7 separate regions of the Homo sapiens genome follow, and all the other regions are reported to be linked to region 1. The links are microRNA targets in miRTarBase. Many come from high-throughput screens and were not tested one by one. Region 1 holds a microRNA gene; each other region holds the end of a gene's coding sequence. Distances are from middle to middle.
The links. The annotated mature microRNA hsa-miR-4469 reads GCUCCCUCUAGGGUCGCUCGGA and lies in region 1 at 1,607-1,628, shown strand. An mRNA with a match to its seed (bases 2 to 7 or 8) in the 3' UTR can be bound and repressed. Matches are read on the target gene's strand: a 7mer-m8 pairs with bases 2 to 8, a 7mer-A1 pairs with bases 2 to 7 and ends in A, and an 8mer does both.

Region 2: the mRNA of CALHM5 is a reported target of hsa-miR-4469. The part of its 3' UTR that is shown has no 7-base or 8-base seed match.
Region 3: the mRNA of LGALSL is a reported target of hsa-miR-4469. Seed matches in the 3' UTR shown: 7mer-m8 at 1,807-1,813.
Region 4: miRTarBase lists PAOX as a target of hsa-miR-4469. The part of its 3' UTR that is shown has no 7-base or 8-base seed match.
Region 5: the mRNA of PELI3 is a reported target of hsa-miR-4469. Seed matches in the 3' UTR shown: 7mer-m8 at 334-340 and 7mer-m8 at 1,002-1,008.
Region 6: the mRNA of ZDHHC22 is a reported target of hsa-miR-4469. Seed matches in the 3' UTR shown: 7mer-A1 at 1,254-1,260, 7mer-A1 at 1,673-1,679, 8mer at 2,430-2,437, 7mer-m8 at 2,436-2,442 and 7mer-A1 at 2,576-2,582.
Region 7: the mRNA of TRIB1 is a reported target of hsa-miR-4469. Seed matches in the 3' UTR shown: 7mer-m8 at 709-715.

The regions. Positions count from the first base shown.
Region 1 is chr8:42,894,750-42,897,830 of GRCh38, reverse strand. It overlaps MIR4469 (microRNA 4469), which reads left to right and starts at 1,556; the gene lies at 1,556-1,634. It overlaps RNF170 (ring finger protein 170), which reads left to right and starts at 1,226. Exons shown (of 7, transcript NM_030954.4): 1 at 1,226-1,347. HOOK3 (hook microtubule tethering protein 3) reads right to left here and starts at 853. Exons shown (of 22, transcript NM_032410.4): 1 at 643-853. The coding sequence starts at 699. RefSeq lists silencers at 235-294, 305-1,094, 1,275-1,634, 1,430-1,641 and an enhancer at 1,548-2,109.
Region 2 is chr6:116,515,429-116,518,428 of GRCh38, reverse strand. It overlaps CALHM5 (calcium homeostasis modulator family member 5), which reads right to left. Exons shown (of 2, transcript NM_153711.5): 2 at 1-2,829. The coding sequence ends at 2,440. All of the region lies in intron 3 of TRAPPC3L (trafficking protein particle complex subunit 3L), which reads left to right. Among named protein-coding and RNA genes, the nearest start is that of CALHM5, 5.3 kb to the right of the region's middle.
Region 3 is chr2:64,458,058-64,461,150 of GRCh38, forward strand. It overlaps LGALSL (galectin like), which reads left to right. Exons shown (of 5, transcript NM_014181.3): 5 at 228-3,093. The coding sequence ends at 371. Among named protein-coding and RNA genes, the nearest start is that of LGALSL-DT, 4.7 kb to the left of the region's middle.
Region 4 is chr10:133,390,935-133,394,027 of GRCh38, reverse strand. PAOX (polyamine oxidase) reads right to left here. Exons shown (of 7, transcript NM_152911.4): 7 at 2,334-2,716. The coding sequence ends at 2,573. Among named protein-coding and RNA genes, the nearest start is that of MTG1, 1.7 kb to the left of the region's middle. RefSeq lists a silencer at 1-79.
Region 5 is chr11:66,475,899-66,478,978 of GRCh38, forward strand. It overlaps PELI3 (pellino E3 ubiquitin protein ligase family member 3), which reads left to right. Exons shown (of 8, transcript NM_145065.3): 8 at 1-1,439. The coding sequence ends at 269. The region is part of intron 1 of DPP3-DT (DPP3 divergent transcript); the gene reads right to left. Among named protein-coding and RNA genes, the nearest start is that of DPP3-DT, 2.8 kb to the right of the region's middle. RefSeq lists enhancers at 372-1,192, 1,830-2,423.
Region 6 is chr14:77,130,904-77,133,996 of GRCh38, reverse strand. It overlaps ZDHHC22 (zDHHC palmitoyltransferase 22), which reads left to right. Exons shown (of 3, transcript NM_174976.2): 3 at 49-2,727. The coding sequence ends at 314. Among named protein-coding and RNA genes, the nearest start is that of ZDHHC22, 9.3 kb to the left of the region's middle. RefSeq lists an enhancer at 1-209.
Region 7 is chr8:125,435,809-125,438,901 of GRCh38, reverse strand. It overlaps TRIB1 (tribbles pseudokinase 1), which reads right to left. Exons shown (of 3, transcript NM_025195.4): 3 at 499-2,896. The coding sequence ends at 2,431. Among named protein-coding and RNA genes, the nearest start is that of TRIB1, 7.0 kb to the right of the region's middle.

The sequences.
Region 1 (3,081 bases):
TGAACATGTATTTACTTCAAAGTATGAGGAATCTAAAACCGTTTAAGAATTCAAAATCAGAATCCCACGACTCTGTCCCCCAAGGCCTTCGAGTTCCATTGTTGACGCCCAGACACCTCCAGACTCCTTTAAACGTCTGCCCGACGCCTCTGACAGGCGTCCGCCCCTCGCGCACTCCCACCGCCAGCGGTGCCTTGCATCCGAAACGGGGTCCCCGGGCGCCTCCCGCATTCTCCCCACGCTCCCTCACAGGTCCTTTCAGTTCCCGGGCCGGAGCCGGGCCCGTCCTCCGCGAACGCGGCAACAAAGGCGAGGAGCGGCGGCGGGTCCTGGACGCGGGGCAGTCAGGCTCGGCCACCCCCAGAGCGCAGCGCAGCCCCAGCTGCGAGCAGCCGCACGGATCCCAGAGTCGCCCGCCGCGTTCCCAGCCCAGCCCCGGCCGGGGTCCGCCCGGAACAGCGACGCCTCAGGCCCGGCAAGTCTCTCTCGGACCCTGGGCCGAGCCTCCTCGCCCCGCCCGCCCCAGGCCCCGGATGTGACGGCACCGTCGCCCGCAGCGCTCGCCCCACGGGCCGCGCGTGGAGGGTCCCGGTAGGTGGCGGGGGGAGGGGGTCTTCCCGCCGGCCCGCGGCCCCCACGTACCCAAGTGAGGAGGCTCTCGCACAGCTCCGCCCGCTCCAGCGACTCTACGCTGAACATCTTCCCCGCCGCGGCCAGGCAGCGCCTACCGCCTGGCCAGACACCGCCGCCGCTCTGTCGGGGGATCCGGGGGCCCGCGCAGCTGACTCGGCCTCAGGCCCGCCTGCTCCTCGGATCCGGCCGCCGACTCTCGCCCAGCGCTGGCAGCGGCTCCGCACCGTCACCCCCAGCGCCCCTCCTTCTCCTTTCACTCGGGACCGCGCGCCAGCCGCGCGCGACTTCGGACACGCCCGCCGCCCCGCGTCCCCGCCCCCGGCCGCCCACACCGCTCCTCCCCAGCGCCGCCGCCCTGGCTGGAGCCGAGGCCGAGGAGCCACTGCGCACGCTCGCGCCCCGGCCGACCCGCGCCGCCGCGCCGCCGCCGCCGCCGCCGCCGCCGCCGCTGCCGCCGGGCGCGCCCCCGCCACCAGTTCGCTGCGTGTCGAGGCGAGCACGCGCTCCGCCCTGGAGGCTGCGGCGACGGGTCCTCCTCCGCCGTCCGGTCGCGCCCTCGCGGAAGCTCGGCAGTGCGCGTGCGCCCGCACCCGCACTCCAAATTAGAAAGGGGACGTCTAGTGGGTTGCCCGGGAGGGGTGGCGGGAGCGGTCCTGGAAATAATCTGTCCTCTGTCGCCGGGAACTGGCGAGGTAGTTCCTTCGCGGTGGAGAGGTACGTCCGGCGCGCGGCGGCCACGCCCACCCTATCGGGGCCCGCGGAGCCGCGGACGGCGGGGTCTGGCCTTCTTGGGGTAGCTCTGGCCGCCGAGGCTCTGCGGGGCGGCGGGAGTCGCCGCCTCCTTCCCCCCGGGCCCCTCCCTCGTCTGGAAGCCCCAGAATCGCCCCGCGGCTGTCCGGAGTCGCCGGCGACGGTGGAGGGGCCGACGCGGAGAGCGGCTCTAGGTGGGTTTGGCGGCGGCGAGGACACCGCCGCTCCCTCTAGGGTCGCTCGGAGCGTGACCCTGAGAACTCTCCTTAATGCAGGAGGGGTGTGCGCCCGCTCGCCAATCCGTAAGGACACCGGCCGACCCCGGGCCTGCGTTTCTCAGCGTTCGGAGTTGCCTTCGCTTAATGGCGAGGCGGATCGTTCTGGAGCTTCCACCTCTTTAGAGGCACGAATCTGTCTGCTGGGCTGCCGATAAATTTTTAACAGATATAGCATACGCAGAAAAGTGCATACGACATACACGTTTAAAGAAGAATTAATAAAACACCCAGATAAAAACGAAAAGGGCATTACCGGCACCCCAGGAGTTTCTCACCCATGCCCTGTGCTCCTTTCGGAGCCTGATTGTCTCCTAGCCTGACTAGTGTGATCATTTCCTTACAGCTTTACCATCTATGTGTGCATGCGATGTCGTTTTCCTTTGCCTGTTTTTGAACTTTTGCGGGTGGATCACAGTGTGTTGTTTTGTGGTTTTCAATCAGTATTAAATTGGTGTACTGTGTATGTATAGGTAATTTTAATTGTTGCCTAGTATTCCAGTGTGAATAGAACAGTGAATCCATTCTACTCTGGTTGGGCATTTTGTTCAGACTGAGGCCACTCAGAACATGGCTATAAACATTCTAGTGTACCTGGAACGTAGTGCAAATATGTTGGAATTTCCAGGACATGCACTTTGGAGTCCTTAGAGAATTGTCGATGCGTAGAGTATGCATAACTACCACCCAATGCCAAATTTTTATTTGGAGTGCAACAAAGCTAACTTCCCAAGACACACTTTGCTTTGTAGTTCCTGGAACCCCTTTCCCCCACTTTTTTTCCATTAAGAGTAGGTTTTCTCATTGAGCACTGAAAACTGCCAAGACAGCATTGAGTGGGGTTTTTTGTTGTTGTTGATGGTGGTTTTTGAGAAAGGGTCTCGTTCTGGAGTGCAGTGGCGCAATCTTGGTTCACTGCAACCTCTGCCTCCTGGGCTCAAGTGATCCTCCTACCTCAGCCTCCCAAGTAGCTGGAACCACAGGTGCAGGCCACGATGCTCAGCTAATTTTCTTATTTTTTGTAGAGAGGGGGTCTCGCTATGTTGCCCAGGCTGGTCTCAAATTCCTGGGCTCAAGTGATCCGCCCGCCTTAGCCTCCCAAAAGTGCTGGGATCAAAAGTGTGAGCCACCGAGCCTGGGTCAGCAGTGAGTTTTTAAGGTTGCCTTACAGAGTACCACTTGATAGTTGACCCCTGATCATTTAGCATTTTGTAAGTGTAAAAAAAAAAAAACTTACCTGAAGTATTCTCAATGGTCTTTTTTTCAAACATTCTTCCCTACACCAAGGGCAGAGAAACCTTTAGAAATTACACATACGTGGCCAGGCGCGGTGTCTCGCGCCTGTAATCCCAGCACTTTGGGAGGCCGAGGCGAGCGGATCACGATGTCAAGAGATCCTGGCCAACATGGTGAAACCCCGTCT
Region 2 (3,000 bases), not on the chromosome of region 1:
TTGTACGTAGAAAAAACAAACCTTTTTTTATTGACATTCACACTCAACACTGAACACTCCTTGCCACCAACTGTGTGGGTTTTCTCCCACACTGGCCAATTCTCCAATACCAACTGGATATCATACAATTCAATTCTGGCATTAATCGGCATTAAGTGCAGATCCCCAGCAGGTTAAGAGCTCAGTCCCATAAGATCTCCCCCAACTTCAGACACCAGTCACAAGCAGTAGGTTCCAAAGTTACTCACATCTTCTATCTGACGTGGCTACAAAGCAGAGGTTCCCATGATTTCCTTCTCAGATTTCACCATTTGCTAGAGTAGCTCACAGAACTCAGGAAAGGGCTTTATTTACTATCATCAGTCTATTATAAAATAATATAACTCAGAAACAGCCAGATGGAGGCACAGGAACAGGTTTGGGGGAAGGGGCACGGAGCTTCCACGGCCCCTTTGGGCTCACCACTCCTCATGTATTGAGCAATGCAGAAGCTCTCTGAACCTTGTCCTTTAGATTTTTATGGGAAGCTTTATTCTTAGGCATGATTGATTAAATCATTATCCATTTGTGATCGACTCAACCTTCAGCCCCTCTTCCTTCCCCAAGGTCTGGGAGTGGGGCTGAAAGTTCCAACCCTCTAAACACATGGTTGGTTCCCGTGGCAACCAGACCCTATTCTGAGGCCATTCAGAAGCCCCTAACTATCAGTCATCTCATTCGCGTACTACCAGACACATCACTTGGGAGGTCCCAAAGGTTTTAGGAGCTCTGCACCAGGAATAGGAAGAAAGACCAAATACATATTTCTTCTTGTAAATGACAATAACATAGATATGTTCTGGGTCCTATACTTGTAGGATTCAGTTTGCCATCATGTTTCATGTTAATAAGAAGTTAATATTCAGCTTTCTCAAACTAAGAGACATAGACTACCACTGTAAGGTATGAGCCACAGCACAAAACATAGTTCTTTTTTAAAGCACAATTCTTCTCAGAGATTTAAGGAGAATTTATGTACATATATACATACACATATATATGTACATACTAACATGGATATAGTACATTGTAGAATGCAAGATTTGCATTATTTCTGATAAATGTAAGACTGCAATGCAGTTTTATGCCAGTACTGCTTTGGACAGTGTCCCCAGACCTTTAGCCAAGGTCAATTTACCCTACTATAGTCTGAATGTTTGTGTCTCCCCCAATTTCATATGTTGAAATCTTAACCCCCAAGCTGATAGTACTAAGAAGCAGAGCCTTGAGAAGTAATTGGGTCATGAAGGTGGAGCCTCCAGGAATGGGATTAGTGCCTTATAAAAATGCTCAAGGGAGCTTATTTGCACTTTCCACCATGGAAGGACACTGAGAAGTCAGCAAGCAGTTTGCAACCTGGAAAATTGCTCTCACCAGAACCTGAGCATGCTGGCAGCCTGACCTCGGACTTCCCAGCCTCCAGAACTGTGAGAAATAAATTTCTATTTTGTATAAGCCACCTATCTATGATATTTTGTTATAGTAGCCCAAACGCACTAAGACATACCCACGGCCTAGTAAGCACTGTGCCTAAGGACCATAATACTTGTAAGGGCCCACTAAAATGTTTTTAATTTCTTTTAAAATCAGAAGAAAATACATAAACTTTTAGGTTGAAGAAAATGCTAATATATTCACCTTTTATCAATGCAGTTATAAATATATATTTCTGTGTGTGTGTATATATATATATATATATATATATATATATATATATATATATATATATTTGTTACTACTATTTTGAATGTAGGAAATGGTTCGCAAAGGCAAAAGTACATAAAGCCCACAAAAATTATGATGCAGCCCTGCTTCCAGGGGAGTATTTTCAGTATACAGTGAAAACATGTGAAAAACTTTCAATTTTAGGTATCATATTCTTGCAACTTGTGATTTTTGAGAACTGAGATCTTCAGATCCTGAGGGAATGAATTCCACAATTTCATACATCCTTAAAAGTGTAGATTTGTAGGACAGAGACTCCTGCTGATCACACTGCAGGAGCCACTGTGTAGGGCAACCTATGTTAAGAGTAACTTGCTCACTCACAAGCCATTGCTTCTGCCCCTAAATTCTGCAACCAATATTTACAGAGACTGATGAGCCCTCTCACATGAGTCTGTCTGTTGAATGATAAAATCTTAGATCTTGGAGCAACATTTAGGCCTACTGAGCCCCTCTCCACCAATGCAAGAGCACCTTTGTCACCCCTCAGCATCAATTTGAGCACATCCTGATGTTCCACTTGAGAGCTTCAAAGCAGTTTCCTTTGTGTTATTGTCTTGTAAACATACTCCAAATGTAAGAAAATACAGAGACACACAGGTTGCTGGTGATACGTTAGGAGGATCACAGAATGAGCATGCCACTCAACACCATGAGTCATTGATGGTGGATGAGCTACATATTGTGGGCAGTACCCACAAGGACCATTGTCGTCTCATCATCCTCAGGGCTAAGTTGCAGACCATTGTCCACCACTCTGTGGAGGGTGCTATAGTGTTGCTGGCTTTGGTGGAAAGAATGCAGCTCTGAAGCAGCCTCCCAGGCAGCAAACGTAGGCATGGGAAAAGGATCTGGCCTCTTGTTTTCAAAAAAACATTTCAGGTTCCTCTCGCTCAGCTTGTTGGCATAGTCCAGAAATGTATTTTCCAACTGCTCCTTCTCCTTTTGTGCATATGTCTTCCAAAAACTCAGCTGAAGGTAGCTAACTTTAGATCGGCAGCGAGCATAACATGTGGTGAGCAGAGAGAAGAAAGACGCTGAACAAATCAGGCACCATCCTAGAATCTTAAGAAGAAAGAAATATTGAGTACACACGTGAAAGCAAAGCCATTTAGGGAGCTGGGGTATTATTGAGAAGTGTATAGCTAAATTATTACCACAGTCTTTGACATACCTCATTTGAAATCATTCATCTTAATTTTTAAACACTTTAAACTCACTTTTTGAATTTATTAG
Region 3 (3,093 bases), not on the chromosome of region 1:
AAATTACTTGAGGAAAAAGCTTTTACACTTACATTCTACACAGGAATCAGAAATTTTGGAGGTAGAGCCCAACAATCTGTGTTCTAACAAGCCCTCTGCAGGTCTCAATGCATTCTGATGTTTGTGAACCACTGAAGATACTGCCTTTCTTTCTCTAAAATGAAGTATTGTTTGTTTTCCCCAGTAGCGTTCATTGAAATTGTGGATTATTATTTTGTTTCTTCCAGGTGGAAATTCTTTGTGAGCACCCACGTTTCCGAGTGTTTGTGGATGGACACCAACTTTTTGATTTTTACCATCGCATTCAAACGTTATCTGCAATTGACACCATAAAGATAAATGGAGACCTCCAGATCACCAAGCTTGGCTGATTTAAACCACCTCTATTTCAAATAGGATCACGTGCCACAACTATCTGACTGTTGGTCTGGAAGAAGTGTCCTAGCAAGATCTGGAGACTTAAAAAGAAAACAAAAACAAATGGCAAGTTTCACTTAAGGGTGGTTTGCCCTTAAGAAGAAAGCTGTTGGGACAAAGACACCGAGCCATTATACCCAGAATAAAATAATACATTTATGCTGGATTTTATTCAGACCAAACTAAAATGGATTTGTGATGATTTGTGATTTGGTAGCAAATTATTCATCTTTTCAAAGCAAGGCAATGCTTAGAAACAGAAGTGCTAAAGACACTTAAAAAGCCAACAACAACGGTACAGTGAAATCAATGCATTTCTGCACTAAAGTGGAATTGTGTAGCACAACCAATATTTTAGTCAGGGTATTTACATAGAATGTAGGTTGTTCAAGGTTTGACTTTTTTTTTGTTTTTTGTTTTTGTTTTTGTTTTTGTTTTGCACAGCATAATGTTAATTCAGATTGTTGAAGCTTTCTTGTAGTTATTTATTTATACTCAATGTATGTATTAAAGAATGAACAATGTCTCAAGAACAGCAAGTTGTAAACTTTTGAATGTATAAATATCTTAGGTCCAAGGGGAGAAAATTACATATTACAATTATGAAACAGGTGAATTTCTGCTTTAAAGAATTGAGATTCTCCATACCCCTAAACTTAGGATCTCTTGATATAAACTGCTGTAAGTGCTTTTGGGAAACCTTTGCAAAACCATTTTGATAAAACTGCTTTCCAAGTTATTGTTGGTTATGTAAAATTCTATTTACATTGCTTTTTCTCCTTACTGGGAATTAGCACATTATTGGCTTCCTTAAGACTAATTATTTCTCTCTTGATTTATATAATAGCTCATTAAGTTGTTATTAATCAAAAACACAAAGAGGTGATTGCTTAGACAATTTTTAAAGTGACTATAGTATAAACTTTTAAAAGAATAATATGAAAATGACTGTGGAATGCAGTGTAAAGCAGAAGCAAACGGCCCTGAATAACTTACTTGGAAGTAATTTATATCAACTTAAGCTGTTAGCTCATTGTATAACTTTTCTTATGTGACCCTCACCAATATCCCTAAGTAATGCCTTTGGAAGCTTCAGAGTAGAAGATGCTTCCTACTGTGTTGGCTCTGAGGAGATAGTAGGATTAGATAGGATCCAGATTAGGAAATGATCCAGTTAGTTTATCTGAAAGGTTAACTCCCAGGACTCCAGGTCTTTGAATCCAGCCAGTAGAGTGAATGCTTCCAATTAAGCTGTAGGTGTTACCCTGCACTTACGGAACTGATCAAACAGGTGACTCCAACAGGAGGTTGCAGTACTGTAAACGTCACCGCAAGGCAAGGGATGCTTAAAGTCCTGGGTTCTGGACTTTAAAAGCTACATTGGCCCTGGAGGGAGGGACCCTTGGCATTGCTTTGATCAGGTAGTGAGGGAAGACAGGGTTCTGGGGTGGGGGTGTATTTATATATAATTTAGGTTTTGTTTGTACAGCATACTGTGTCTTGTAATGACACATCCTTGTCCTGCTTTCCTTTTTTGAGTTTTTTTTTTTTTTTTACACAACATGCAGAGGCACTGAAGTGACCATGTCATTTTCAAGTGTCAAGAATGTAGACAGTGTTTCAGTACCAAAGTCTAAAATAAACTAAAATTATGAATTTTTTATAGGTGATACATTTGGATTCTTCTCAACTTTGAAACTGTTTAGCACAGTTCCATTGTATTATATAAGAAGACACTGTATCCAACAAGACTGGCTGTACATTGAAAAGCTTTATGTACCAGCCAACTTATTTAACCATATTCAGCCTGTTCCGTGGGGGCTGTTCTGTGGTTCCAGGTATTTTCAAGCCTGTGATTAACTTCTCATGGCTTGTCACTTAAAAGTCCCTAAATTTGAGAGACTTAAAGGGCACCTTGAAATACATTTGTGGAGTTTTGATCCAACTTATGGTGGAAGAGCCCCATAGGAAGACTGTTTTGAGTGGCCAACCATTCCCACCCACTGCATAATTCAGCAGAAACTAGAGGAGCAGGGCGTGTACTGATTGGAATTGACACGCTTATTCTGTCTACCTATCAGCTAACTCATTAGCAGCCAAGCCCTTAGGCAGCTTAGTGTGAAAATACAATGTTAACTGTTTGTTTCTCTGTGAGGTTAGTGGGAACCGCTTGGATAAGCCTATTGGGATTAATCTAAATGATGTGATGATTTGATTCAGGTATAGCCCAAATTAGTAAGGGGCTTTAGCTGTAAACTGAAAACAATATTCACACCCTCTCCTGGGCCTGTAAGGTCTAAGGTGAGAATTTCAGGATGGAAAATGCAATGTAAAGCTTCCACAGGAAAGTATTCGGGTATGTAAGGTGTTATTTCTGACCAGAGCCCTAGTTCTGCAATAACCAAAACCAAGGAGTATAAATAACAATCAGGCTCTGGGGGAATAGAAAGCAGGCTTTAGACAATCTGTCCATTTCTACAGTAAAATTGGAGTGAGTGTGTATATCTACTTAAAACTTAATAGAAGTGACTTCTACTTTTTGGGCTATTCCAGAAGTATTTTAAAATTATTATTTAAAATTTTGAAGCCCCATTTCAAATCTTGCCGACCTTAGTTCAAAGCCCCCTGAGAGATCACTTTTAGAATTGAGGATTTGTTAAAATGGCAAGTCATTTC
Region 4 (3,093 bases), not on the chromosome of region 1:
CAGAGGGAGGGACGAATGGTGGGTCGAGCGTCGGGGCGGGACTGCGAGGAGACCCGGGGGGACGGGGAGGTTCCTGGGTTTTGTGGGTTTAAGTAATTCGCAGATTTATTAACATTCATTAAATATTAAAAATCATCGTTCTCCCTTAAGCATATCCTGAGTATAAGTGTAAAAATTTAGCAATCTCTTTTTACAATTTGGTTAAAATCTCTCAAATACTTTAAATTTACCTTATAAATGTAATCTCTTCATTTTCTTTTTAAGTACTTCAGGGTTTTTGTTTGTTTTGTTTTGTTTGAGACGGAGTCTCCGCTCTGTTGCCCAAGAGTGCAGTGGCACGATCTCGCTCATTGCAACCTCCAACTCCTGAGTTCAAGGGATTCTCCCACCTCAGCCTCCGGAGTAGCTGGGATTACTGGCGCCTGCCACCACGCCGGCTGATTTTGTATTTTTAGTAGAGATGGAGTTCCACCATGTTGGCCAGGCTGGTCTCCAACTCCTGACCTCAAGTGATCTACCTGTCTCGGCCTCCCAAAATGCTGGGATTACAGGCATGAGCCACCGCGCGCAGCCTCAAGTACTTCAGGGTTTAATATAACAAACTGTTTCCAAATACTGACTGCAGTTCTGCTAAATTAAACCGATTAATTAATGAGGCTGAAATATTCTCCACTGTCCAAGACTAGACATAAATATAGTCGGATTTCAACTCTAAATCAGCAGTCAGCAACTGCTCAATTGCACACTGCGTTACAAGAGTATTACTCTACCGGAATTTTTATTTTTGAGACGGAGTCTCGCTCTGTCGCCAGGCTGGAGTGCAGTGGCGTGATCTTGGCTCACTGCAACCTCCGCCTCCCGGGGTTCAAGCAGTTCTCCTGCCTTAGCCTCCTGAGTAGCTGGGACTACAGGTGCGCACCACCACGCCCGGCTACTTTTTTTGTATTTTTAGTAGAGATGGGGTTTCACCATGTTGGCCAGGCTAGTCTCGAACTCTGACCTCAGGTGATCTGCCCACCTCAGCCTCCCAAAGTGCTGGAATTACAGGCATGAGCCATGGCACCCAGCCTCTACTGGAATTTTTTAAACAAGCTACTGAAAATACCAAACATGCTCAAATTCTAAGTACAAAAATATTGCCATGGTTCTGATGTTCTTAAACCACCTAATACCCTAACGCCTAGCTGTAAATATTTTTGGGCATGAGAGAGTGGCCCCTCCGTGGAAGACAGAAGCCTCCCAGGTGGTTTCTGGGCTGAGTGGGGGCAGTCAGGGCCTCCTGCTAGGTCAATGCCCCCAAGCCCCCTCCTCACCAAGCCGGTCCCTCACACCCAGAGGGGGCAGCCTGGGTCTTGCTGCCTTTCTCCCTGGGATACAGAATTGATGAAACCCTAAATGTCAATGATAAAGATTTTTGTACTTTAAGGAAGCTGCATTCCCTCATGGTCCTAGGAGCACAAAACCACAATAAAACCCTGTGGAATCTGAATTTCTCTCCCAGGCGTCTGATGGGCAGGTGTCCCCAGAGAGAACAGTCTGGTGACACAGCAAATGCAGGTGGGGCTGCTGGCTACAGAGGGAGGCTGGGGCTCGGGAGGGTGGGGTCAGGGAACATCCTAGGAGGGGCAATTTGAACAGAGACCAGAGGGTGAGAAGAGAGGAGCCCTGCAGATCCAGGCTGGGGTGGAGGGGCCGGAGAGGGGCCTGGACTCCCAGCACATTCACCCCAATACCACGTGGTACCCCAGCACTGCCCACACCCCAACATCCCCCGGCACCCAGCACACTCACCCCAACACCCCCCAGCACCCAACACTACCCACACCCCAACACCCCCCAGCACCCCAGCACTGCCCCCACCCCAACACCCCCCAGCACCCAGCACACTCACCCCAGCACTGCCCACGCCCCACACACTCCCTGGCTCCCATGGGCTGGGCACCGTTTCTCTTTTCAGGCCTTATTATGTATTCACTTCCTCCAGAAAACCCCCGGCCTCAGGGCAGGGCAGGGCACCCCTCATCTCCCCAGTGCCCTGCGAACCTGTGAAGTGGGCGCCTGATGCAGCATCAGTTGATGAGCAAGAGGAGGGTTGTCAGCTATGCTGTCATCCCAGGCAGCAGCCACGAGAATGCAGGGGCACGAGAAGCAACTACAGGACCCAGAGTTCAGGGAACCCAGAGTGTGGGGCCATGTGTGGTTGTGGGGATTGGAGACACAGGGCCCTGTGCAACCTGGGCCCGGAGCAAGACAAAGACAACAGCAGCAGATGCTGGAGCCCCAAGGCAGGAAGGACAGGACAGCCTCAAGGCAGGAAAGATGGCTCTGGGAGCTGTGGCTGTAACTTGCTTTATGTGTCCAGCATCTCCGTGAGCATCTGGTGTCTCAGCTCAAGTCAACCCTGGCCAGACTCCAATAACAGACACAAGAACTGAGAAGGTGGCCCTGGTTACCAAAAACCAGAGGACCCTCATTAACATCCCCAAATTTCAAGCCAGACTGAAATCTGTCAGAAGAAATGAGGGTCCCAGCCTACCCCCGACACGGGTGGAACAGAGTAGGCTGGGCCCAGCTAGAGCCTGGGCCTGGGCTGCTGCACCTGCGGGGCCCACAGACTGAGGAGGCGGTCGGCCTCCCTCCATCCCGACAGCAGAGCCCCGTGCGTCGTGGAGTAAAACGTGCGATGTGTGGCTTCCCCCGCAAACAGGATCTGGAGCTGCAAAGAAGAGCCAGGGTTAGAATGGGGATGCAATTCAGACAGCAGGGTCTGGGCAAGGAAACACAGAAAATGGCTCACAAGCATCCACCAAGAAGCAGGAAAACAGCTCACACACCTCCACCAACGGACGAGAAAAGGGCTCACGTGTACCCACCAATAGCCAGGAAAACAGCTCACACACATCCACCAACGGGCAGGAAAACAGCTCACATGTATCCATCAACAGCCAGGAAAACGGCTCACACGCATCCACCAACGGGCGGGAAAACGGCTCACACGCATCCACCAACGGGCGGGAAAACGGCTCACACGCATCCACCAACGGGTGGGAAGACGGCTCACACGCATCCACCAATGGGTGGGAAAGGAAGCCA
Region 5 (3,080 bases), not on the chromosome of region 1:
AGCGCGAATGTCCTCTCTGCCGCCTTGTGGGGCCTTATGTGCCTCTATGGCTTGGCCAGGAGGCCGGCCTCTGCCTGGACCCTGGGCCGCCTAGCCATGCCTTTGCACCTTGCGGCCACGTCTGCTCTGAGAAGACTGCCCGCTACTGGGCCCAGACACCACTGCCCCACGGCACCCATGCTTTCCATGCCGCCTGCCCCTTTTGCGGGGCCTGGCTTACCGGCGAGCATGGCTGCGTCCGCCTCATTTTCCAGGGCCCGCTGGATTAGGCTCCCTGGGGCCCCCTGCTGCTGTGCCCACCTGCCCACCCAGGTCCCCACCTCCTGCAGCCCAGAGGGAGCTCTGCATGTGGGACACTCCCTGCTGGCACAGCCACACCAGATGGACATGTTGGATGGGCTGTGCCCTTCCCCCCAACTGTGGCCCCCCAAGGAGGTCCCCAAGATCTCCACCCCAGTCATGCTGATGGGGCCTTCAGCACCAGCTCTGTCCTGGGTCGATGGAGGAAAGCCCAGCCCCATGGCCTTGCCCTTCCTGGGGCATCCCACATCGTGCCGCCGACACTGTGTGCCCCTGGGGGAGTGAAGGGGCCAGGGGCCTTTGACCCCCAGCTTAGGCTGGCTATGCCCTGAGCCTGCCAACCCAGTTTCAGACACTCATCCTTCATCCTTCCTGCTGCCGCCCTGGGTTCCTCTATAAACCTCGCTGCTCAGCTGCCCCCACAAGTCCCACATGCCCCGCATGCGTGCAATGCCTCCAGCCCCCAAGTGAGTGGTGGGTGGGTGGCAGGCTGGGCCTAGCACTTGCTGATAGCCACTATGGGCTCGACTCTGTGCTAAGTGGTATCTGGGGACACAGAGGCAATCAGACCTGGTTCCCCCCCTGGTGGAGTTCACAGTCTAGTGGAGGACAGACTGTTAACAAATGGCAACACGGCTTCATGCGTGCCAGGATCAGAGTACAAATCAGGCTGTGGCAGGCCTCACTGGTAATGGAAAAGTGAGGGAGGCTTCACGGAGGAGGTGTCATAGGAGCTCAGCCTCAACGGCTGCTCGGAACCCTCCGAGTCCACAAGATGGGAAGCAAGTCCACAAGATGGGAAGCGTGCTCTATACAGAAGGGAGGGCCTGTGCACAGGCTCAGGTGTCAGTAAGCCAGAAATCCAGGGACAGAGTCAGGATGGCTGGAGCATGGACTGCGGGGGGAACAGAGAAGGGGGTGGAGCAAAAGGTTGGGACCATGTGACCAGGGAAGATGCTGGATGGAGGATTCTGAACCTCATTTGTGGACGGTCAGGAGTCAACAAAGGGAGGAGAGAGGACTCACTGGTCAAGAGTGTCGGCTGTGACACAAGGGCCATCATCCCTGAATGCCCACCATGTGCCCCGCACTGTGCTGATGATGATAATAATAACTACGTCCATTGAGCACTCTCCAGACACCGGGCTCTGCTTCTTGGAGGTTTTGTTATTTAATCCTCATAGTAACCCAAGAAGGGAGGTGTTGCCATTTTTGTCTCTGAGGAGATGAGGGCAGATGCACCAAGTCACACAACTAGAAAGTGGCCAAGCCAGGATTTGAATCCACAGCTGCTCCTCTCCATCACAGTGTTGCTTTCCTTCAACAGAGGTGGGGGTGAACCAAGCAGGGTTTTGGATACTAGATTGGTGGACACCCACCTGCTTCGTGCCCAGCCCTGCGCAGGGCCCCTGCAGTGGGCAAGGCCGGGCCTCTTGCAGCCCATGGTCTGCAGAGGGACCTACCCGTGCTTGTGTTGGAAGCTGGCCCCCACACCTGTGCTGGCCACCTGTACCCCAGGCCAGGATGCAGTGGGCTATTAGCCAGGCTGGAAGTGTTCAGAGGAGTGAGAACCAGGGGCTCTAGAAGGCCCAGGGAGGACCTGGAGCCTGAGCCAAGTCTTGAATGGCAGAGCATCTCCAGAGGCAGAGAGGAGTTGGGAGGGCAGCCCAGGTGAGGGGAACAGCATGGTGTGGCAGGGAACATGCCTGGTGTGGAGGGGGGCAGCAAAAAGGAATGGGGGGTAGGGAAGGTTGCTGGGGCCTGGTGGGCCTTGATTGCCATGGAAGCCAAGCCTGAACTGGATTCCTATTCATCCTGGCCACAGGTGGGCGTGTTGCTGGGGTTGCCCCAGACCATTCCTGCAGGGAGCGAGCCAGGAAGACAGGCAGACGGCTGTTCTGGAGATGAAGAGAAGAAGGCTCTGAGTATAGGCCTGACCTGGGCATCGTCCCCAATAGATGACAGAGCCTAGGGAAGTACAGATTCCAAGGGGAGGGATGGACCTGACCAAGGCCACACAGCTGGTTGCGGCCAGGGAGATCAGACCTGGGTTATTGAGAAGACAGAGGGCACCCGAATGTGATGAGAGAAGGAGGAGGGTGTGATCAGATTCTTGCTTCCAGAGCATGGCACTGCTGCAGTGGGGGTGAAGGGGAGGGTGGGGATGCTGCAGGAGGTGTGGGAGCATTCCAACTTCTCTCCCCTCAACATACACACAACACACAAAGCACTCAAAATCCAACTCTTCCAAGTTCTCTCTTCTGACCCTGTTGGGAACCAGGCAGGGGAACATTCTGATCCCATTTCCAGTGGGGAACCTCAGACCCTAGGAGGAAAGACCAGCAAAGGGCACCACAGTAGATGCTGGGGAGGATTCAGAGGTATTGGTGGAGGAGGTCAGAGCCCTGGTCTTGTCCCAGCTCTGCCTTTGCCAGCTGTTAGAGCCTCAGTTTCCTCAGTGCTAAAGGGGATAACAGTCACTACCTCGCCAGGTGGTTGTGAATATACAGAGAGCACCTGTAACACAGTTGATTCGTAACTGTTGCTCCTCACCGACCCCTTTTGCATTCCCATGGGGAAGAGCCAAGGCTGGGGAGTTATGACTCCAGTGATAGACTGCTCCATGTGAGTGACTGTGTGTGTGTATCTCTATGTTGGGGCCAGGGATATCTGAACTGTGTGGTGTTATAGGAGTCGGCGAACCTCTTAGCCTCAGTTTCCCTATCTGTACAATGGGTAAAGTGATCATACCTCAGGATTTTTGCAAGAATTAAATGAGG
Region 6 (3,093 bases), not on the chromosome of region 1:
GCCTGGGTGTAAAGCGGCTCTGGTGTTTCCCCTCCCCGTGCCCTGCAGGAGCTGTCCTGGGTTCTGAAATGTTCGTCATCCTCATGCTCTACCTCTGGTTCGCCATCGGCCTGGCCTGCGCCGGCTTCTGCTGCCACCAGCTGCTGTTGATCCTCCGCGGGCAGACCCGCCACCAGGTGCGGAAGGGGGTGGCAGTGAGGGCCCGGCCCTGGCGCAAGAACTTACAAGAGGTCTTCGGAAAGAGGTGGCTGCTGGGCCTGCTGGTCCCCATGTTCAATGTCGGAAGTGAGAGCTCCAAGCAGCAGGATAAGTAGTAGACACTCCCGTCATTTATCTCTCTGTCTCTGTCTTGACTCCTCCTGAGCATAAAACCATGGCAGCCTTGTCTCCACCCATGACTCACTACAACCTTGTGCTGGTAAGGTCCTAGCATCTTCCCCTCACCTTCCACCCATGAGAACAGCGTGAGCTGGTGGATCATGACAAGGAGGAAAAATGTCCCCCCAGGCATTTCTAGGCTCCTCACGAGCCAGCCAGGTGGCTGCTAGCTGTTAGGCTGCCTCTGCTTTCTTTCCGTCCCCTTGGGATCCCTGCTTTCCCCCTCTTCCTGGCTCATCCATTCTCCACCGTGTCTCATTCATCACTGCTGTCTGCTAGAGCCCTTCCTCTCAGCCCCCATGTTGGGAGAGGGGAGTGGATTCTTGCTGCTGGTATGAGACTCCCTGGGACCTAGAGGCTGGCAAATGTTTAAAATCACCACGTGTAAGAGGCAGCCAAGTCAGCTCTGCCAACTGCTAGGGGAGTTGGGAAAGAGTGGGTGTGTGTCCGCATCCCCTCTGTAGGAAAAAGAACTTAGTAGCTTGCTGCTCCCTCACCACCCCCCACCAGGTTCAAGACCCTTTTTCTGGGAGACAGCAATCAATGGCCTGCTTTTTCCAAATGTTATTCCCTGTCCACCCTGCCCCATCTGGCCGGCCCAGCCCAGTCCAGGACCTGGCTGGATGCTTCCTGTCCCTGGAACTCTTCCAGCCTTTCTACTTGATCTCCAGCCCCCAGGTCTTTGCCAGATGATGGGAAGGCAAGGAAGAAGGGACAGGGAAAGATAATTACTGATAAATGAAGGGGATATTCGACTGTATAACCATATGGAAGTGTGTGTGTGTGTGTGTGTGTGTGTGTGAGAGAGAGAGAGAGAGAGATGGGTGGTGGTGAGAAGTGTTGTTAGAAACATATAGGAATAATGCCTAGGGGAAAGGGAGAAGTGAGAGGGACAATTGGGTTCATTTATGCCCTATACAAAGGGCATTCCAGCAGCTGAAACTCTTCAATGTTTGAATGGCTGCCTGTGAAGGTAGTGAGTGCCCCATCACTGGAGGTATTCCAGCAGAGTCTAGGCAGTCGTCTGCCAGGCATGCTGTGGAAGGGATTTCTGTACAGGGTCATTCTAGGTGAGCTTACACATTCCTTCCAACCCCAAGGTTCTGATGTCCTGGTTGTGATTGCTGGACCCAGAGGCAAGATCTGCAGAGATGCCTGTGAGATATTTGCTTTCCTAGAGGGGAGTGTGGGCATGGGAGGGGTCTGAAAATCAGGACCCAACCCAGCCACTGAAGAGAGAGTCTCTGCAGAGACAGGGCTACCTGGGTGGTTGAGGGGACTGACATTTGAGGACAGGGAGATGGAGCAGTGTCATTGTCAGTGGCAGGGCATGGGGGGCAGTGGTGAGCTAAGGCTGAGGAGTGGAGATGACCAGAATATAAGGGTGCAATTCCCAGACCATCCCTGCGCATCTGACTGACTCCGGTGGAGGCACTGCTGTGTGTTTTCTGAAACCTAGAGGACCAGACCTCTGGGGCATATAAGGGAGTAGGGACAACACAAGTGCCCCCTCCTGACTGGGTCCCAAAGCCAATATGACATCCATGCAGGCAGCAGTGCTGAATCCATGCCCTGCAATGTCCAACCGCCAACTGCAGTGACCCGCTGATAGCTGCGCAACAGCCTGGGTTCTTGAGCAGAGATTGGGAGGACTTTACTGTGGTTCTGCCTTCACACCCCCTAGAGAGCTAATGTAGTATTGGCTCCACCTGCTCACATTTCTCCCTCCCATACTCATTCCTTCACTCATCCATCCTACGTATATTTATTGAGTGCCAACTACGTTCCCAGCCTCTTCCAGGCACTGGCAATGCAGTGATGAACAGGATGACAAGATTCATGCCATCAGGGGCACCTTGTCACTGCCGTCTGTGCACTGATTCACACTCCCTGCAAAATGGTCACTCTGCCATCTTGGTGGTTGGTGGGGCAGGTCATTTGGAAATAAAGAATGTGATAGAGATGGCTGAAGAGGGGAAGCCTAGGCTGCCTCAATGGAGGAGTCGCTGGGGGCATTTTCACCCACAATTCTGGCCATACTTAAGCAATGGGAGGGAGAGGGAGGAGGGGAAGATCTGGGCAATTTTGGCCTTGACTCTTTCCTGGCTCCAGAGCTCAAGCTTAGAAGCCAGCCCTGCTATTTCCAGCCTCCTGAAGGCTCAGCACGGTGAGGCCTGACATCCTGGGGAAGGGCAACAGGGAGACCTACAGGATGTTGGCTGCTTGCAGACTGGTCAATGGGGGATGACGGTGGGGAGGTTGCCAGATGTGAGACTTGAGTAGCATTTGTACACATGGCCCTGTATTGTCCTTGAAGAACATCAATAAAATATATGGTTTTAAATTGGATTTGATATGATTGTATGGGCACTGTTGGTAGCAGGGCTGGACTGTACTGATGCAGCCATACTAGCTATTCAAATATTTAAAATAAGTATTGAAAATACTAAGAAATTCTTACAACTAAGAAAGTTGGTAAACAACCATGGCTCAGATTCTCTGAGTATCCTACCCCTTCTGCCCCTGCTCCTCCCTGGGGACCCTGGATTCACTCCACAATCCAGCAACTAAAGTGATCATTCCTGGCACATGCATGGGGCCCCCCAGCCCTGCTGCAGCCCTCAGTCAGAGTCCATTGTGATTTGTCAGGGCTGGGCTGTGTGGTGCTAAATAGGTGTCACCTCTGGTTGGTAACCAGAGGCTTCAGTGCTGGGT
Region 7 (3,093 bases), 83 Mb from region 1:
CATGATGCCTTCAGAGATCTGTGTGAACCTCTGCAATGATAACAAAATTTTGTTTTATACATGTGACACTGTTCTCAGGAGTGGTCATAGCTTTATCAAATTCTCAAGGGTCCACGGCCCAAAAAAGACAAGCTGATTTTTACAACTCAAGGTTAATTTATGAATGCTCACCTTCAAACGTTTCTTGATTCTGATTCTGCTATGAAAGAGTATAAAAAATAAAAAATGTTTCCCGAGTCTAAATTCAACCCAAAGCACGTATCAACACCCAATGGGCTTCATCCATCAAAATAAATTTGCCCACTGAAATGAGAAAAGCAAATGGGTTCAAGTCTGCCAAAGGTCATCGATGATCCTCATCATCTCTACTTTTCCACCTTCCCCTTGCTGCTCACCCCCAACTAGACTGTAAGTCCTGAGGCCAGAGACCTTTGCAACCTCTGCATGAAATTGCAAAAGGCAAAGCAGATGGAACTCGAAAGAAATTCACCACACCTATTTACGAAACCAGGTTTATTAAAATTTCTCTACAAGTCAGAAACGGCCATCTCACTGTTCACATATATACACGTATGTACAGGAAGAACCTAGTGTTTCTAGCTTTCCCGGCAGAAGGCCCTGCCAGCCCAGAGTCCTTAGTCGGATAATGTATCACAGATACAACAGTCGAGCAACCACGAGAGCGTTAGTGCGACAGAGGCCTCTGTCCTCCCTCTTCTCAAAGTCCCATGATTCTGTCAAGGTAATATTGCCAATAATCATTCACATTTCACGTGGTTTTAGACACGCAGGTTATTCAGACAGACACAGACAACAAAACAAGCCTCAAAGCCAGAACAAAACAAAACAAAACAAAATCGAACATAGGTATAAAAGGTAAAATATATGTACAAAGTACACAGTACGTGAGGTATACACGGCATTCTCACAATGCATGTTAGTAGTTTGCCTAGGCATAGCCCTTAAAGATGACTGCCTGTTTTTGTGCCATTTCTCAAAATACAGTATATTTTGTTTACCCGTTTAACCACCTGATTTCAGCACTGTCCAAGACAGTTACTGATATTTCATCTGAATTTGTTTTTTAATGAAAGTTGCAATTTCTCCATTAAGCTCCATCTTTTGTAGGGGAGTGAGTTTCCATCTCTGGACATATCTAACAGAGGCTGGATTCCCACCTACAAAAGAAGCTGAAGAGGGGATTTCTGCCTTGGGAGGTGGCAGAAAGAGGAAAGAGATTGGACCGGATGATTTTTAAAGTTCCTTCCAACTTTGAAGATTTGGGGTTTGCTGTTTCACTCCAGAAGCCGATTATACAGACGTATTCATAAACCACACATTTGAAATATTAACAACCCACCATGCAAAACTGCAGATGTACACACAATGCCAAAGGCGGACCATATCTGGGAGGGGTTAAAGTATAATTCTGGAAGTTAGTCTGAGAATCACAAGACTATCCAAAATTCACTCTCTTCAAAGCACAAAGATGTTTAATGTCTGCTCTTGGGAGAGGTGGGTGGGAGCCTCCTTATCTTTCTTCTCTTAGACAGAATGCTCCACCCTGAGATGGTCTTGGGGAAAAAGTAAAGGGTAGGTACTAACATATTTGGAAGGAACTTAAAAAGCTAATAGTTTCCAAGCACTCAAATTATTTTTTAAAATCTGGAGTCTCTCTGAGCTCAGAGTTCTGAAATCGTTGGGAGATGGAATCTTTTGTGATACTGTTCCACGTTCGGCTGGTAAGTGCTTTTATAGCTAAAGGGGGAAGTGTCAAGGTCAGGGAGAAGGCATTAGTGCAGATGAGGTCTTGGCAGGAAACAGAGAAGAGTCTCGGTTCATGGTTCCATCAGGCTCCTGAGCAACTTAAAACAGTCTGCTCCAAAAACGGAGCAGAGTCATTGGTAAATGTGAGTGTGAAGAAAGGGTGAGTGTTAAGCCAAAAAAGGAACTTTCCCATCAGAGAAGCTGCCGTAGCAGTCTAGCCACCAAAGATGAGTTCAAAGATGGCAGATTTATTGGCCCAATTTGTCACCCTGTGAAAAATACGGTTATTACTCAAAATATGTCATTGTGCGATTTGCTTTTTCTCCCATTCGAATGCTCAAGTTTATTACACACTTGACCACCGGGTGTAAGATGTCCATACTCTGCCCTCCACAAAAGATGCGGAACTCCCAAATCCAGCAGAGATAGTTGGTGAGGGTTCCTTAAGGGAAACAAATTTGCAGGGCAGCCAATCACAGCATATGCTGCTCAAATCAATAAAGTCACTCATCCCAACAGAGAAGAGGAGGCGCCATGCCGAGTTCAGCAGCTTTCATCCTGATGCAGTCATTATCTGGTTGGTACCACGCCAAAGGGCCTGTCCATCTTTAGAAATGGAAATGCCAGGTGTTAAGAATTATGAGGTTTCTGAGGTTTTGGGGATTAGCAGAAGAAGGAACTAATGTCACTGTCCTCCTGGTACTCTGGAACAATCTGGTCTGAAGTTCCTATTTCTGAGTCGATGTACCCGGGTTCCAAGACGGACTCAAACCAGGGGTGCAGTAGGATCTCGGGGGCAGTGAGTCTCTCGGAGGGCTCCCGTCTCAAGAGGCTGCGAATGAGGCACCTGGCTTTGGGGGAAATGTGCTCAGGAATGCAGAACTGTCCACGCCGAATTTTGGAGAAAAGGGCACTGGGGTCTGAGTCATGGAAGGGGTATCGTCCAACCAGAAGGGTGTAGAGCATCACCCCCAGGCTCCAAACGTCCGCAGCCTTTCCGGAGTAGGTCCCAGTGGTGTTGAGGATCTCAGGGCTCACGTAGGCTGGGCAGCCATGTTTGTCTGACAAAGCATCATCTTCCCCCTTCATTATGTGTGTGTCTTCTAGACTTTCTAGTCTAAGCTGGGTTCTGCAAGAGAGAGGAACCAAGCCATTATTTCCACACCAGCTGCTATGAAAAACAAAGCCTTCCCAATAACAGCGCCCACAGGCACTAACAGCAAAGGCTCCAGGAATGCTATTTACCCCTTCGTCCAGTAAGCAGTGCCCTGCAACTACCGAGGGCTCCTGATTTCACAAACTAACACGAACTGCAATAAATGTTTG